Regions from separate parts of the Homo sapiens genome. Here region 2 is linked to region 1. The links come from fine-mapping of genetic effects on gene expression. Tissue or cell type: lung. Region 1 holds a variant in brackets; the other region holds the start of a gene. All regions are shown on one strand. Distances are between the middles of the regions.

Region 1 (8,185 bases):
GCCCTTGGAGTCCTTGGATGATGAAGCATTTAACGAGGCATCACTAAGGGATAGCTAGTGACTGGTAAAGTCCTGGCAGCGGCTGACCCAAGGCAGGCCACTGGCACAGGGAAAGAGGCTGGCGTTTGTGCAATTAACCCTACTGAGCCAGAGAACCTCACCTTCAACACTGATAGGCATGTGTTTGTCTATAGATCCCAAGCTAACATAACAAAAGGAGCACTACCCCTCCCCATTGTAACATGCCCGTCCAAACTTTCCCTTAGATTGTAACTCTTGCTTCCAAATAAGTGGTCCTTCTGCACGGGAAAGGGGCAAATGTCACAGTCTCCCCTAAGGCCCAGGAAGCCTTTCATTTCAGTGGAGTCTGGAAGGGAAGGCAAAGCCTATCTGTGATTATTCAAGCAGATCTGCCCCCAGGCAAGCAAAACATACAGACCTTGTCAACCATTCCGGTTCTCAGTCTGATCTAGGAACAGCCGGTCTGAAGAGCATTCCAGGGAAGCCTGCCCCACCACTATGTGGGTGACAAAAGGAAAACCTGAGAGGGAGGGAAATGGAGAAGGGGCCAAGCAAGATCTGAATCTCCAGGGAAGCTACTCAGAACAAAGACAAGCAGAATAATAATTATTATACTTTATACTTACATGGCATTTACTATGTGCCAGGCACTTTATGCTCATTTAAATCTGACAGGGGTCCTAAGACATTGAAATTATTATTATTATCACTTAACAGATGAGAAATATACTGAGGCTTAGAGAATGACTTATCCAAAGTTGCAGAATGCTGTGTCAGAGCCAGAATTTTACCCTGGCAGTCTGGCTCAAGACCCTATTTTAATCACTCTGCTATTCTGCCTTATCATAGGTTTTTAGGGGATTTTTTTGTTGTTGTTTATTTGAAGCTAGAATGCAACAGACACTGTCAATAGGGATTCAGTGGCCGTGAGGAGAGCCATTTAGTCTCAAATCAAGAGAGAGGAACAAGAATTTGGAAGCAATAACATGAGGACCTTTAAGCATCAGCCTAAGCCAGTAGATGGAAACAGAAAAAAAAAAATAGAAATAAAAGGAATGTCACCTCAAAAGCTGAGGTTAAAGAATTCAAAAATATGTGCTAACCCCGTGAAAAGGACAATAATGAAAACTATGTAGTTGCAACTTAATGCATCTGTTTATTCTGTATATTCTGTTCATCTTCAGAGATTTCCTCACATCATTATAAAAATTATCATGCACATAAACAGTTGACTGCAATAAATATGGTAAGAAACGAGCATTGCCAGAGTTTTTTTGAAAAAAAAGGAGAAAGGCTGCTAATTCTAAGATTGGGAGTTGAAAAGCCCCCAGATGACATCAGCCTAAATTCTCCTAGAAAAGAATGACAGGAAGCTGGCTCAGGGAACTTTCTCTGTGGAGGTGACCCATTTTATCACCATAGATAGGACTCAGGTGTACAGTGAGGGCCTGGGATGAGAGGTCAGGGGAGGTGCTTGGCCTCTGTCCTTCCATTCGTCCTTTTTCTTCCCCCTTAGACACTGTGATGGACTGAACTGTGTCTCCCATAAAATTCACAGATTGAAATCCTAACCCCTAGTACCTCAGAAGGTCACTGTATTTGGAGATAAGGTCTTTAGAGAGAAGATAAAATGAGGGCTTAAAAGTGGGCCCAGATCCAACACGACTGGCATCCTCATAAAAAGAGGAAATCTGGCCACAGGCATGTACACACGTGAAGGAAAGATCGTATGAAGACAGAAGGAGATGGCCATGTAGAGCCCAAGCAAAGAAGCCTCAGAATGGATCCAATCATGCGGACACCTTGATCTCAGACTTCTGTCCTCCAGGACTGTGAGAAAATAGATCTCTGCTGTTGAAGCTTTGCAGTTGGTGGCATTTGTGAAAGCAGCACTAGTGGACTAATACAGTGTCTTTCGTAAACTGTAGGTGTGCACAGGAGGATTATTTGCTAGCTGTCTCACTGAACAACCATGTGCTTCCTGGCCCTAAAACAGACTGCCAGTTAGTGCTTTGGGGGGATTATGCATCCATCAGGAACAGGAGGAGAGAATAATTAAAGGTCCTCCAGACTTCTATAGCAAAGTTCCCAGACACATAATGCCCTGGTTCATGTCCTTTTTTGGTTTTTTTGTTTTTGTTTTTATTTGAGACCAAGTCTCACTCTGTTGCCCAGGCTGGAGTGCAGTGGCACGATCTCAGCTCACTACAACCTCTGCCTACTGGGTTCAAGCAATTCTCCTGCCTCAGCCTCCCAAGTAGCTGGGATTATAGGCACCCGCCACCATGCCCAGCTAATTTTTGTATTTTTAGTAGAGACGAGGTTTCACCATGCTGGCCAGGCTGGTCTCGGGCTCCTGACCTTAAGTGATCCGCCCGCCTTGGCCTCCCAAAGTGCTGGAATTACAGGCGTGAGCCACCGCACCCAGCCTCATGTCTGTCCTTTTTATATCCTTTAGGAATTACCACAAAATCCCTTTAGAGTCTGTTTCCACACTCCCTCTGTCCCCTAAATTCATCCTTCTTAGCATCAAACAAAATTCATCTTCACCTGTTTTTTAACCATGTCAGTCCCCCTTAGCTGGTGTTAATGGTTTCTCATTAGCTACAATATAAAGCCCAAATTCCTTTGCTTGTCTCTTAAGGATACCCCTTAAATCCTTTTGCTTGTCTCTTAAGGTCAACTCCAGGTTTATCCCACTGTGCCCCCAAAGGAAGCCTTGTAGTTCCACAGAGTTAACAACCTCAGCGCATTGCCCTGGAGAGAGCATTATTTATTCATTTCTAGGCCTCTGGACCTTTAATCCAATCCCCTCCCCAAGAATGCCTTCCTAGTCAAGTCCCCTCCCACCCAGCCAACCCTGAAGGTGAACTGTATGGCACTCCCACACTACTTACCTGGCAAACATCTCGTATCTGGCAAGCTGGGCAGCTGTTTTCTACTTTGTGAAGCCCTTGAAGGCCCACGTCTAATATTCCTTGTATCCTCCCCACCCAGCTCATACAGTGTCTATCACAGGGTTTTGGGTACAGTATCATTCAATAAACACCAGGGAAGCAGATAAGGAGGAAAACGTGTGAAAGCAGAGCCTGTAGCAATCCCCACCCTGTTTGCGTATCTCATTTCTTAAAAAGTTCTTTATCCTTCGGTAATTAATTGAAAAATTAAACTTATAGTCTAGATATGTGGTCTCATCCCTCCAAGTTTCCTGTCTGAAACACTCTGTGTGTGTGTGTGTGTGTGTGTGTGTGTGTGTTGCGGGGTAGGAGGTTGGGGCAACAGAAGAGGCCTCAGATGAAAGTTAAAATGGGTATTCCTCAATGGACTGTAAACTCCTCAAAGGCAGGACACTCATATGCCATTTTGACCCTTATACTTGTACAAGCGGGTATTCTGTCAATATGTGTGATTGACACATAGACACATGGATCAATTATAAGCCTGACCATAAACATGGGAGTCCCTGGGGTTTCCCACTGCCAAGTTAGGGACAAGTTTCCATCCTTCCTCTTTCCTCTAGTTCTCTAACCCAACAAAGCCAAATGCCACATCATATCTGGGAAGCCTGGTGCCTAAAGCTGACTTCCATTTCTGCCACTGAAACAACAATAATCTCTTATTGAAAATTGTCCCAACACTCTCCAGATCTCCATGGAAAGGCAAGTGGGGCTTCCTGCCCATCCACAGTGGCTGTACATCAAGAAATTACCCTGACTGGTCCTGAGATAATTAGAGACTTTGTCAGCAAACGCTTCAGTAATTTTAACCAAAAAGGCAGAGGAGCAGTGGAGATTGAGCACAGGTCGGAGTTGGAAACTGATAAATAAAATCTAAAAGCTAAGTAAGTCTTACAGCTCCTATGTACCTTACTTTCAAAGGACTTCCCCTCATAATTGGCAAAGTAAGGAAGTTAGTCTTCCCCCAGGGCAAAGGATCGCCTTTTCTTTTCAAGAACTCACTAAACCAATTAACTCTGTTAAACAAGGAGAGAAAACATTTCAAACTGCAAGGCATGGTTGCCATTAACACTGGCCTTGCTCCAGCAATTACAAATGATAACCAACTTTAAAAATCATGATGAACTACTGCTTCAAAGCAAAATCAGTTTAAAGCAAATGTAAACTTTGAAGCTCTTAGAAATAGAATCACAGAGACATCACCATCCACGGGGAAATCCCTGCTCCAGCCAGCCCAGCTTCCACTGAAGCAAGTGATAGCACCGTTCCTGGCACAGTCTTTTTTGCTGGCTTTTGCTGTCTGTAAGACAAGTTCATGGTTATGCTGGACAGCTGATGAGGATTTTTAGTCCTTGTAAATTCACCAATGAGAACAATTTGTTCAGATTTCACAAAACAAGGATGCACGGGTACCCCTTGTGACATCAGGTATAAATGCTGCCATTTTTAGAAAACCTGAAAACAGGTTGAATTGTTCAAGGAAGGGAACATGTCAGGCCCAGCAGCCTGAGGGTGATGAAAAGTTGCCGAGGATGGTACCT[G/A]GGCTTGTGACCCTCTCTCTGGGAGCGTCAAAGAGCTAAGGCAATCATGTAAAGGAACATGGCTATAGAGGCAGACATAGAACGGAGGAGGGGACAGACAGGTGGCACAGGGAGCAGAGAGAAAGTCCGGGGGATGTGGAAAATGAAGAGAGAAAAAGTGATAGAGGAGGTGCAGCAACATCATTACATTCTAAAATGCAAATTCTCTATGGAATCTCGGGACAATTATGGCAGGACCTCTTCCCTGTGTTATTCCTAATCAAAATAAGAAATGTATTTCTGTGACGTTACCACTGATGATTAGTGAACTCATTAGCCGCCTTGTGGCACTGGGAGTCAGTCACTTCCAGCTGATAGAATGATGCTCTGCCCTATCTATCCCCCAGCAGCCGGAACAAATTTAAAATGATCTAGTATCAACTTTTTCATTTCTACTAAACCATAGTTATCAGTACTTTTTTCTTTGCTGGGAAATCATGGCAGAAAATGATGACTCCTCATGCATTGCTATGGAAACCCTAAAACTTCCTCTAGAAACCATCAAAAAGAGGCAGCGCATAACCCCACTCTGACTCTCAATCACGATTCTCTCCAAGGAAGAAAACTGAAAATCAGATGGATTCATTCCGAGTTCCTTTTTCCAATCAAACAGATGGGATTTAGATAAGCTCTTAAAGCAAATTGTGATTCATATAATAATATGTAAACTTATCTCAAATCTCAGAGGTTTTTTTTCTAAAGAAGATTCCAATAATTAAAGCAGTGCTATACAACTGAAATTCCATTAAAGCAATATAGTTAGACACAAGTTTCTCAGAGCTAAAACATTTACAAACCCTGGCTGAAGGGTCAGAATACTTGCGCCCTTTACTCAATGTATTAAAACATTGATGATTATGAAAAAATGTACTATTAAAACACATAACAAAATGTTTTCATATGTTCTTATTTAATGATTTCTAAAATACATTCAAAAGAACCTACTATGTGCTTACCACGATGCAAAGCAAGATCAAGAACAAACTAACCATAATTACTACCAGAAACATCCTTCTAACTCTACCGACTTAGAGCCCACATGGGACACATCCAGGTGAAGGTCCTAAATTCACAGGCCAAACACTTTCCCAGAGAAACTCTAGGTTGAAGGGAAACTGCCACGTGTCGACTCTGTGCTTGGTCCGTTTCACCACCCCAACAACTAGATCGGTTTTCTTACCCTCACTGGTATAGATCAGGACACACAGGCTTAGAGAATGACCAAGGTGCCCATTGGTTACAAAGCCCCAGTTAGGTGAAGAGCCAGGCTAGGCCAGTACCAGCGACCAAGGCTTAGGACTTTTCTTCTGCAGGCAGCAGAATGACTCTGGCTAAAAAATGCAACCAAACTATAATGAAAAAATATGCAAAGACCACCAGATAGAAAGAAAAGGGAACAAATAAGACATGAAAAGGGCCAGAATGAGGACAGTGTGGGCATCTGCGTAGGAGAAATTAATGGGAGCCACTGTCGGCGTGAATCAGCTTCAATCACCGCAGGGCCTTGAGTTCCCCTATTGAAAGGTCATGCTGACCTCTTGGCTGGAGGAGCAAGGCCATCTGATTGACAGCCCCACCCAAACTGCCTGCAATGGAAAGTAGTGCCGCCCCCAAGTAAAATTAGAGGGGAAAAAGGAATGGGCAAAAAGAAATAACTGTAGAAGGTGATGGATATATTAATTTGCTTGCCTGTGGTAATCATTTTCCCATACATATCAAAATATCATGTTGCACACCTTAAATTTATGCAATAAATAAATTTTGAAAATAAAAAGGAAGAAGGAATGAAAATACTCTTTCGCAAAACTGTACTGAGTTCACGATAATAAAATTGCCATAATGTACCCAAGCCACAAAGTTTTAAACTCTGGGAAGTGTATTGCAAGTCCACTTTGTTTTCACTATGGGTTACAAATGAATTAAACAGAGAAGAGTCATCTTCAAATAATGGGATTTTAGATCTGAAAGGAACCTCAGAGGTCAACTAGAACAATTCTATCACTTTGCAGGTAAGGAAACAGGATTTGTCCCAGGTTCCACAAGCTAGTGAGAGGCAGAACTAGAATGGAGCTTGCCTCAGTCCAGACCAATCTCTGCCCACTATGCTGCATCCAACGCTTTTGGGTCACCACAATAAAATCTCAATGTGGTGAAATAACTTAGTCATCTCCTTATAGCACTGGCTATAATAATACATCTAAGCACGTGCTACCCACAAGTGTAGTCCCAAACCACATCATTTCTTCCCAGAGTTTCCTTTGCATAACAGTGCCTCAATTCCGGTATTACATGTCAGTTTAGGATTTACACATTCATAAAGCATTCTACATTTTTTGTCATACAGAGGTTTTCTCAGGCTGAATCACCACTTTAACAACAAAAAAAGAAACTTGAGATGATTAACATTTAATGGGGACTTGTTGACTTGCCATGTACTTTTTAAGCCATTTACATATAGGTACAAAAAAATGTAAGCAGAGAATGATTTGAAGAAATAGAAAAATAGAAATCAACTAAATGTCAAAATGAAAGAAAGGTTGAATCAAATGATAGTATATCTATGTGATTTAAAAAGCAAACAAAATAAGTTTATACAATCATGAATGTTATAAGCATAGAAATATCTCATAAGCTGGTTGAATGAAAAGTTTATACAGAAAAAGTATATGCAGCAAAATCTTTATTTCCACAAAAACAATAGTAATACATGAATGTATGTGTGCATATATATATATGACTATGTACTTGTATACATACATATATACACACACTCTCATATATACACACAAATATGCATGTGTACGTGTGTATATATATGTATATATACACATACACACAATTTGTATTAAAATGCTAATTTGGAGACTAGGGAAATAGAATATAAGTATTTTTAAATATCCTCCTTATTTTCTATTCTTCTAGTATAGACTGTTTTTTTCTTAAATAGAAAATAGCTTATTTTGTAAATGTCCAAACGCTTTGCCAGCTAGGCAGTACTCCACTGTGTCTGATAACCTAACCCTCACTATCTACCCTGAGCCATCATACTAACAGGAACAGTGCTGGCCTCTGCACACAACTAGCCCTTTAGCTGGGAAGGGGTCACATTGTGAGTGCACACTCTCCCAGAGACTAGGGCAAGAGGAGGTAAATGGTGACCAGAACAGCTCAACTCTGAAAAGGACAGTTTTGTTTTGTTTCTCCTGGCATCTCTTTTGTTTCAGAGTCCATGGATTGATTAGAACAGCTCTTCACCCTTGGACTTTTGAGAGAAAAATCACATAACTGTACTATACAGTCCTACATTCAGGGATGAGTATAGGGTAGAGGCTGGGAAAACAGGGTGAAAGAGTCAGGTTTGATTATTCCAACTTTCACTGATTTTATTTTGTAATTTTAGGGACACTAAGTGAGACCTCTTGCTTCAGATTCAGATACCTTCTTTCTATAGCCAGAATCTTTGTGAAAACAGACAATGGGAAAGGAGCTTTGTGTCTGTCTCTTCCCCTCCTCCCGGCTCTCATCTCTGACAGGCAGCATGGTGATTTAACTGTCAGCACTAAGTGGCACATCTTCTTTCAAGGGGCTCCACGGAACACTCCATAAACCGACAAAAGAATATAACAA
Region 2 (8,185 bases), 120 kb after region 1:
CACTGCAAGCTCCACCTTCCGGGTTCACGCCATTCTCCTGCCTCAGCCTCCCGAGTAGATGGGACTACAAGCGCCCGCCACCACGCCCGGCTAATTTTTTGTATTTTTAGTGGAGACGGGGTTTCACCATGTTAGCCAGGATGGTCTTCATCTCCTGACCTCGTGATCCGTCCGCCTCGGCCTCCCAAAGTGCTGGGATTACAGGCGTGAGCCACCGCGCCCGGCCAAGAGTGGAAGTTCTTAACTAAGAAAGAAAGAGCTCTCTGCAGCAGAGAGGGATCCTAAAGAAATGGGTTGTCCTGGGGGAAATTCTTTAACAATGTAAATAATTCTGTTCCTCTTAAAATTTTCACATAACAGTTCAGCATCCATGGATGAATCTTGCTTGAATTAATTATTGCTATGATGGTTTCAAAGTAGTAATTTTCTAACTCTCTTTGTCTATATTTTTTAGTTGGCATCATTTGTAAACTTTTTAATAATGACTAGGGTTAGAAATCATTTAACTCAAGATTTTCCATCCATTTTCAGCCAAAGTGAAGCAATTTTCTTTTAAAGTCTAGGCATCTGAAATCCTGAATATCTCAAGTCACTGTTTAGCACTAGTTTCTAACGTGGACTTGTTGAGGGCTTATATTTGATCCCCGACCCCCACCCACCCTCTTCCAGGACTGAGCACTGAGTGGAAATTGCTGATGGAGTAGACAGGATGGGGAGAAAGGAAACTGCAGGTTGCCAACAAGAAAGAAGGAGGGAAAAAGTGGCTGCTGGTGGAGACTGACTGCAGGGCAGGAACATCAGCCTGGGATGCAACAGGCAAAAATGACACAAGATCAGCCAGGAAACCAGGAGCACCCAAACGGGGACAGATGTCTCCTTTTACAATACCAAATGTTCATCTGTCACAGCCCCAAAGACACATCCACCTGAAAACTGCCCAAGATTTCTGGGGTATAATAGAGTTAGATGTTTCCAACATTACCTAAACATGCCTGGCTGATCCTAAGAAATTATTCTTACAAACAGATTAAAGTGACTTCAAAACTAAACACCTATAAAAGGAAGTACTAATAATGCAACATATGCCATAAATGGAATAAAAAAATAAAATAGCGCTTCACTACTTTTGTGTTCTGGAAACAAAATATTATCTGGAATACTTGTCACTGAGGAAATCATGAAATAGTTCAGTACCCAAGTACCACCACTTTATATAACAGACTGGGATCTCAAAGTTCCTCACGATTTCATGATAACTTACTGAAAACCTAGTTGAAGCTCTCGAGTTCCCCTTTTCTCCTCTGGAATCTGCCCTTAGACAGCATGCTATCTAGATATAAGAACATTTTCTATTGGCTATGTTCTTTTTTGTGAACATTATAAGTTTCCAGGCAAATATTTTAAAAATATCTCCATATTTTATATAATTTACATGCTACATTCATATAGAAGGTCTTTCTGGATTCTCTCCAGAAATGACTGGAATAGAATACTTGGATTTCGCCTGGTTTTAGAACCAATTTTTCCCTCAAGGGGAAATTTTGTGGGGGAGAAAAATGGGGGTTGAGGGAAGCACTCAGCTATAGCCCTAAGGCAATATTGTGCCCAGGTTTGATTTATCTTATCGAGGTCATGTAGTCACTGCATGGTGACAAGACAGGACTGCTAAAGAAGTGATCATCACTCTGTTCCTACCTCCCTCTCACCTGTCACTTCCTCACCTGCAGAGGTAAGGAGAAGGACAGAGGAACAGTAGTTCCTGTATCACTGGAACTTGTTAGAAATGTGAATTCTCAGGATGCACCCCAGACTTACTGAATCAGGAACTCTGGGAGTGAAGTCCAGCGATCTGTTTGAATAAGTCCTCTGAGTAACTCTGATGCATGTTAAAGTTTAAGACCTCCTTTTTAAAAATACTGATGTCAGGGTCTTTTTTAAAGCTCTCTGGAGTAATTCTAATATGCAACTAGGACTAAGAACCAGAGCTAACTAAAGAATTCTGTATCTGGGAGAAGCCCTGGGCTCTACGTTTTCAAAATCATCTCCATGCTAACAGAAGGTTGTAGGACTTCGGGCTGCAAACATGGTCAAGCTTTGCGGGAAATTTTTCAAGACACTGACTGAGAATACTTTCCTTCTCTCCCTTTTGATAGTAGGGACACATAGTAAGCCTCTCACATTAGTTTTGAATAAGAAAAAAGACAAAATAATGTTTCTCCACAGTTTGGAAACCTTTCAGATTTCTAGCTCCATCTCAGCTAAGAAAGAACATAAGATTGAGCCTAAAAAACTGGTCAAGAGCTGAGATGGTCAGATATCATCATAATTTTTTCATAAACAAAATCAATGGGCAAAAGTTTGATTCTTCAGTACAGTTGAGTATACCATATAAGGAAGTAGAAGAAACATCAATCTAAATAAATTGGTATGGAAGCATCTCAGTTTATTTTTCTAGGGTACTAAATGTATCATCTTAACCAAAACATAAGAAAGTAAATAGCAGAACAGTGTCTCACTGCATGTGTGTGATGCACAGTTGCTGGTAGATACTTTGAACCCCTTTGCCTTTGTTTTTCATTAATAACACAATAAGGCCAAATCTCATGATCTCCTTCTTTGTTGAGTCTTACTTTGTTAAGTAAAGCTTCAACCATAATTTTTTTTCTAAACACACACACACACGAATGGAATCACACTTTGTATAAATGAACAGAGCTGAGGAAAGGGAAATTTGGCCCAAATTAGCTGATTTTACTGGAAACACCTGATCAACATTTTTCTCTTTAAAAAGGAGGAAAGCATGTTGGTATCCCCACACATATCAGATGATGGCAAAACAGCAGGGAGAGGACAACCACCATTTACTGAAGGCCACCTGTGTGCCCATCGCTTGTAAGAGCTATGAATGACAGCCTTGTCCTAATTTAGAGAAACTGAGGACAGTGCCATGGTCCCACTGCTAGGGAATTCTAGAGAGATAAAATACAGGTCTGTTTGACTACAAAAACTCAAGCTCTCCACACTATCCTAAAGCTGTGTTCTTGGCTGGGATGATTGTTTACAAGAAAAATAATAAATTATTGCAGAAATTTTGACATCTCATTTTCCCATCTCTTTTCCTCCTCACCTCTCAAAAAAAAAAAAAAAAAAATACCTTCCAAAGGGCCTCTGTAGCCAGCACACCATTTGATTTTTGTTTTTTTCCTCTGTGGCCCAGACTGGAGTGCAATGGCAGGGTCATAGCTCACAGCAGCCTCGCACTCCTGGGCTCAAGTGATCCTCCCGCCTCGGCCTCCCAAAGTGCTGGGATTACAGGCCTGAGCCAGCACATCCAGCCCCATTCACTCATCTAATGAAGTCCCTAACATGCGCCACACCTGTGCTAGGGACTTTGGATGCTAGGTACGCAGGTGTGACTTGGTTTTACTCTGAACTCCCTTTGAAGCTTCACTAATACGTATCTGGCTTCAAACGCAACTAACTTAACCAGTTTTCACAGACGGGATTCCAATTTCCAAAGGCACTGAGCCATAAGAGCAGCGGTGCCAAGATGCCAAAAGCAGGCCAACCCAGCGCCTTCCAACGCTTCCATTCAGAGTTTCAACCTGATGTCTCCAGGCACTCCTCCCACCCACTGACCATGGTAACCAGATGCGGTCTCCAGCCGGCCTTGTGCTGCCCGCTGCGAATACAGCCCGTGGGCCACCGGGCAGCCGAGCCATGCAAGCCACCCTGATCCCCAAAAGGCAGACGCACAAACCCGACCCAGAACTCGAGGCGAACCTTGAACTCACAGCGCCAAAAACGCGCAGTGCCTTCGTTTGCCCGGCTCGCTGAAGGCTGGCTCTGGGCCTGGGGGCAGTGCCCGCGAAGGGCTGCGATGGCAGGCCCCGCTGCCACACGGCATCGAGGGTCCCTCCGCCTCGGCGCCAGGCGCACGCCCTTCTGCCACATCCCTCGCGGGGCGCGCCGCCAGGGCCACCTGCCCTTTCAAGCCCCGCCAGGCAGCCAAGGGTGAGGAGCGGAGAGGGACCCGGCCGCTGCTGCCGCGAGCCAGCACAAAGGCAGCGTCTGAAATCGAACTTCCCACCCTGGGCACCGCGGCCTCCCCCCACCCCTGGCCTCCGCGGCCGGAGCGCACTCACTGTCAGTCGCCATGGTCGGACGAGGGGGCTGCCCGACGGCCGCCCAGGTTCGGGAAACCGGCGCCGAGCCCGGCCGGGCGCGCGCTCCTCGGCAGGCCCGGTGCGCTCGGGGGCCGCGCCGCGCACAGCCCCTCCTGCCGCGCGCCCCCGCCGCGCCGCGCCGCCCCGCGCCGCCCCGCGCCCAGCAGCCGCCAGCCCTGCGGCCGCCGCCGGCGTCCTGAGAGCCCAGCCTCCCGGGCAGAACGGCCGAGCTGCGGCGCCTAGAGGCTGGATCTCCCCCTCCTCGCCTCGCCGCGTCCGTCCCCCTCCCCTCCTTTCCTTTCCCGCCCCTCCCCCAAAGAGGATGCTCGCCGCAACTTGGAAACACGCTCCCGGCCACGCTAGGGTCGCCTCTCCACGCCACCTTTCCTACAACGTTCCCGCTATATCCTTGTTTTCGAGTCACCTTTTCCATTCTCCGCTTCATCCCTACCTCGAGCTTCTCACCAGCGGGGTTGGGACCCCATGCTCAGCCCCAGCTGGAAGGAGCAAAGCGGGAGAAGAGCTAGGGGTGTGGGGAGGATGAGCCAGGTGCTGGGCATTAATCCTCCGGGGCAGGAGCTCTCCTGCGAAACCGCTCAACGCCATCTCCGTAGGCTCCAAGTGGGCCGTGCTCTTCATGTCACCCTCTGTTTTGTCTCCGATGTGAAAATAGTTCCCAGCACGTAGTAGGCTCTCAGCAGATTTCTGTTGAGTGGGTGAATGGATGTCTTTATAACTGGATGCCTGCATGAATGAATGAATGAATGGCCAACTAACTGATTGGACGTCCACTGGATGAGCAACTGATACATGATCATAGCCAACTACAGCCCTGCCACTGACTAGGGATGGACGCTAGAGTAAGTAAGTGGACCAGGCCGAATGAGTGAGCCGGAGTCTTGTGCCTCACAGGCCATTGTGGTTCAGGAGGGCTCTGAACTGAGGCTGTCAGTTCAGAATGATGTTGTATACATCTTCTTGAAGTCCAAAAACCAATTTCTGATGGATTATTGGATTATTCTGCCATTACTTTTGCACCAACCTAATATATTAGGGGACAGTTGTACATTAGAAACCCCCGTCTCCACCACCAGATCCATCATGTGAAGGATCAAATGGCTCAAACACATCCCCTAAATTACATGGCAGGCTAGATACTTCTTAAAGATACAATACATTTCGCCCAGGCATGGTGGCTTAAGCCTGTAATCCCAACACTTTGGGAGGCCAAAGTAGGAGAATCACTTTAGCCCGGGAGTTCAAGTCTGCAGTAAACTATGATTGCACCACTGCACTCCAGCCTGGGTGAAAGAGCAAGACCCTGTCCCTAGTTTTTAAAAGAAGAAAAAAGGGCCGGGTTCACGCCTGTAATCCTAGCACTTTGAGAGGTCTAGGCAGGTGGATAGCTTGAGCCCAAGAGTTTGAGACAAGCCTGGGCAACATAGTGAGACCCTGTCTCTAGAAAAAATAAAACAAAAATTAGCCAGGCTGGTGGTGCATGCCTGTGGTCCCAGCTACTCAGTAGGCTGAGGGGGAAGATCACTTGAGGCTGGGAGGTGAAGGCCGCAGTGAGCTGAGATCATACTACTGCACTCCAGCCTGGGTGACAGAATGAGACCCTGTCTTAAAAATAAAATAAAATAAAAATACAAAGATACAATCCATTTGATGCATTTGGAGATGCACATTCAACCCAATCAGCCCCGGGCTGGATGCTGAGAAGACTCAGGAGCAAGGCTCCCGTCTGCCTATCCACTAGCTCCCACGTGGCTAGGCAGACAGAAAACTGCCAGAGAACAACACAGGAGTCCTCTCTGGTCAGTTCACAGAGCACGATGAGGGAGAGAATATTCTGATCAGGCTCCACATTCTGATTCAGTCCACCTAGAGTAGCACTTAGGGGTGTCCTTTTTTTAAATTGTGTTTAGCCTTTATTTGTTTTAACACAGGTGATTCTGAAGCAGACTTCTAGTTAAGAACCACAGAGACCTGGTTCATTTGTCTTTCACAACAACCATCTGCAGTAGACCCAAAAGCCAACACTCTGGAAGTGGGTTGGATGGGGAAAAGGAAAAAAGAATTAAACATGACCCTGGAGTCTTTAACCTGTTTGGAGCTCACAAACCAGGAGGTTAAAGGAAAAAAGAATTAAACATGACCCTGGAGTCTTCAACCTGTTTGGAGCTCACAAACCAGGAGGTTAAGCTGGTGTGAGGGCAAAAAGGGTGGGTTGGGCTTGGATTCAATTGAAGGGTCAGTGGAACATGTGTGAGGCTCCTTATGCATTAATCAAACTGGCTTTTCCAAATGAGAAAAAGGAAAAAAAATGACAATTCAAAGGATATGTTCAATAAATGATTTCTGAATAATGGACCTGTTGGATAGCAGGTTTGCATAGCACCAGATGTCAGATGAGAAGGGGTTAATGAACAAGTAGATTTCATAGAGGCGGAGGCCCCAAGCATAGATAATTCTCTTAAAAAGTTTAATGGTGAAGGAATGAAAGAGGATGGAGAGCTTTGGAAGAGAGCAGGATCAAGATAAGATGGGTTTTTTGTTTTGTTTTGCTTTAAGATAGATTTCTGTACACATATTCAAGTATTTAATATATAAAAGAATAAATTTTCACTTTTCTATAACCAAATTAACTTTCTGGCCCAAGCCCCTATTAGACCCATTGTTAGGGAGTTTGATTTTACTCAGTTCAAGGTAAACATCGATTCAGGCTTTTCTCAGGCAATTCAGAGTTTTCCTTCCCCATTTTTTCTTGGGGTTGCATCCATGTTTGGAAGGACAGGTTGGGTAGCATCAGGGATGGTAAGAGGTATCAGGCCCCATCTGTCCCTTTTGGGAGGTACCTCTTCTGTCTGGACCTCAGAGCTCGTCAGACCTCCACAGCCATGAGTGTGGGTGGCAGCCACCACTCTGTCTTCTCCTCCACACCAAAGCCCCTTCAGGTCTGACTTTTTCTCCTTGACTTTCCTGTTGCTCTGGAGAGGACAAGTTTGGCTACTCACCCATTCCATTCTAAGAAAACAGTGAGATCTGTGGAGTCTCAGGCCTTTTCTAACAAGCCAAACAACCATTTCTTTCTTACCATTCCCTTACTATGTGGTGGAGGGGAGCTCTGCATGATGGACCACCAAGCAAGACATTTAATGTGACATGAGACAAAGGTCCCCTTATGGCTCAATTTCCCCAGCCTATCTGGAAGTTCTACCACCTCCCAGCCAATGCATGACAATGGGATGCTTTTCTAAGAAGGGGTATTGGATGTTTTCAGCCCCATGTAACTGCATAAGGTGGCTTAAACAATAACACACCTTGTTATATATCAAGGGATCCACCCGTGGTTGATTTAGCATCTCCACAACGCCCATAAGAACTTGGACTCCCCACTTTCCTCCTCGGCAGTAAGGCTGCTGCAGCACAAAATCTCCCAAATCTGGTAGGAGAGGGGGATATTCCTCCTTGTCATTCTCACTCTTTTTTTTTCTTTTTTCTTTTTTTTTTTAATTTGAGACAGAGTCTCACTCTGTCTCCCAGGCTGGAGTGCAGTGGTGTGATCTTGGCTCACTGTAACCTCAGCCTCCCGGGTTTAAGTGATTCTCCTGCCTCAGCCTCCCGAGTAGCTGGGATTACAGGCTTCCACCACCATGCCCAGCTAATTTTTGTATTTTTAGTAGAGACAGGGTTTCACCATGTTGGCCAGGACGGTCTCAATCTCCTGACCTCAAGTAATCCACCCACCTCAGCCTCCCAAAGTGCTGGGGTTACAGGCGTGAGCCACCGCGCCCAGCCTCGTCTCTTTCTTTTTATCAGAGAAAGAAATCTTTGTAAAAGCCCTCAAAGGCCTTCTCCACCATTCTGGTGGCACTGGAGGCTGGGAACGCAAGCATCTGTTATTTTCAGCGTTTATGGCACAAAGTGGATTCTGCCAACAAGGAAGAAGGGGGTGGGAATGACTGCCTGGCCCACCGTCAGTGTCTGCCATCGTCTTCGTATACCCTCGGCAGACT

What was found. PIP is the estimated chance that this variant, and not a neighbour inherited with it, causes the effect.
Region 2: it holds the start of SYT16, and the variant in region 1 is the best candidate, but not a certain one, in a credible set for the expression of SYT16 in lung (TOPMed, PIP 0.72).

The regions. Positions count from the first base shown.
Region 1 is chr14:61,933,119-61,941,303 of GRCh38, reverse strand. All of the region lies in intron 1 of SYT16 (synaptotagmin 16), which reads right to left. Among named protein-coding and RNA genes, the nearest start is that of SYT16, 120 kb to the right of the region's middle. The variant G/A (reference allele first, on the strand shown) is at 4,520.
Region 2 is chr14:61,808,771-61,816,955 of GRCh38, reverse strand. It overlaps SYT16 (synaptotagmin 16), which reads right to left and starts at 4,253. Exons shown (of 8, transcript NM_001367656.1): 1 at 4,146-4,253.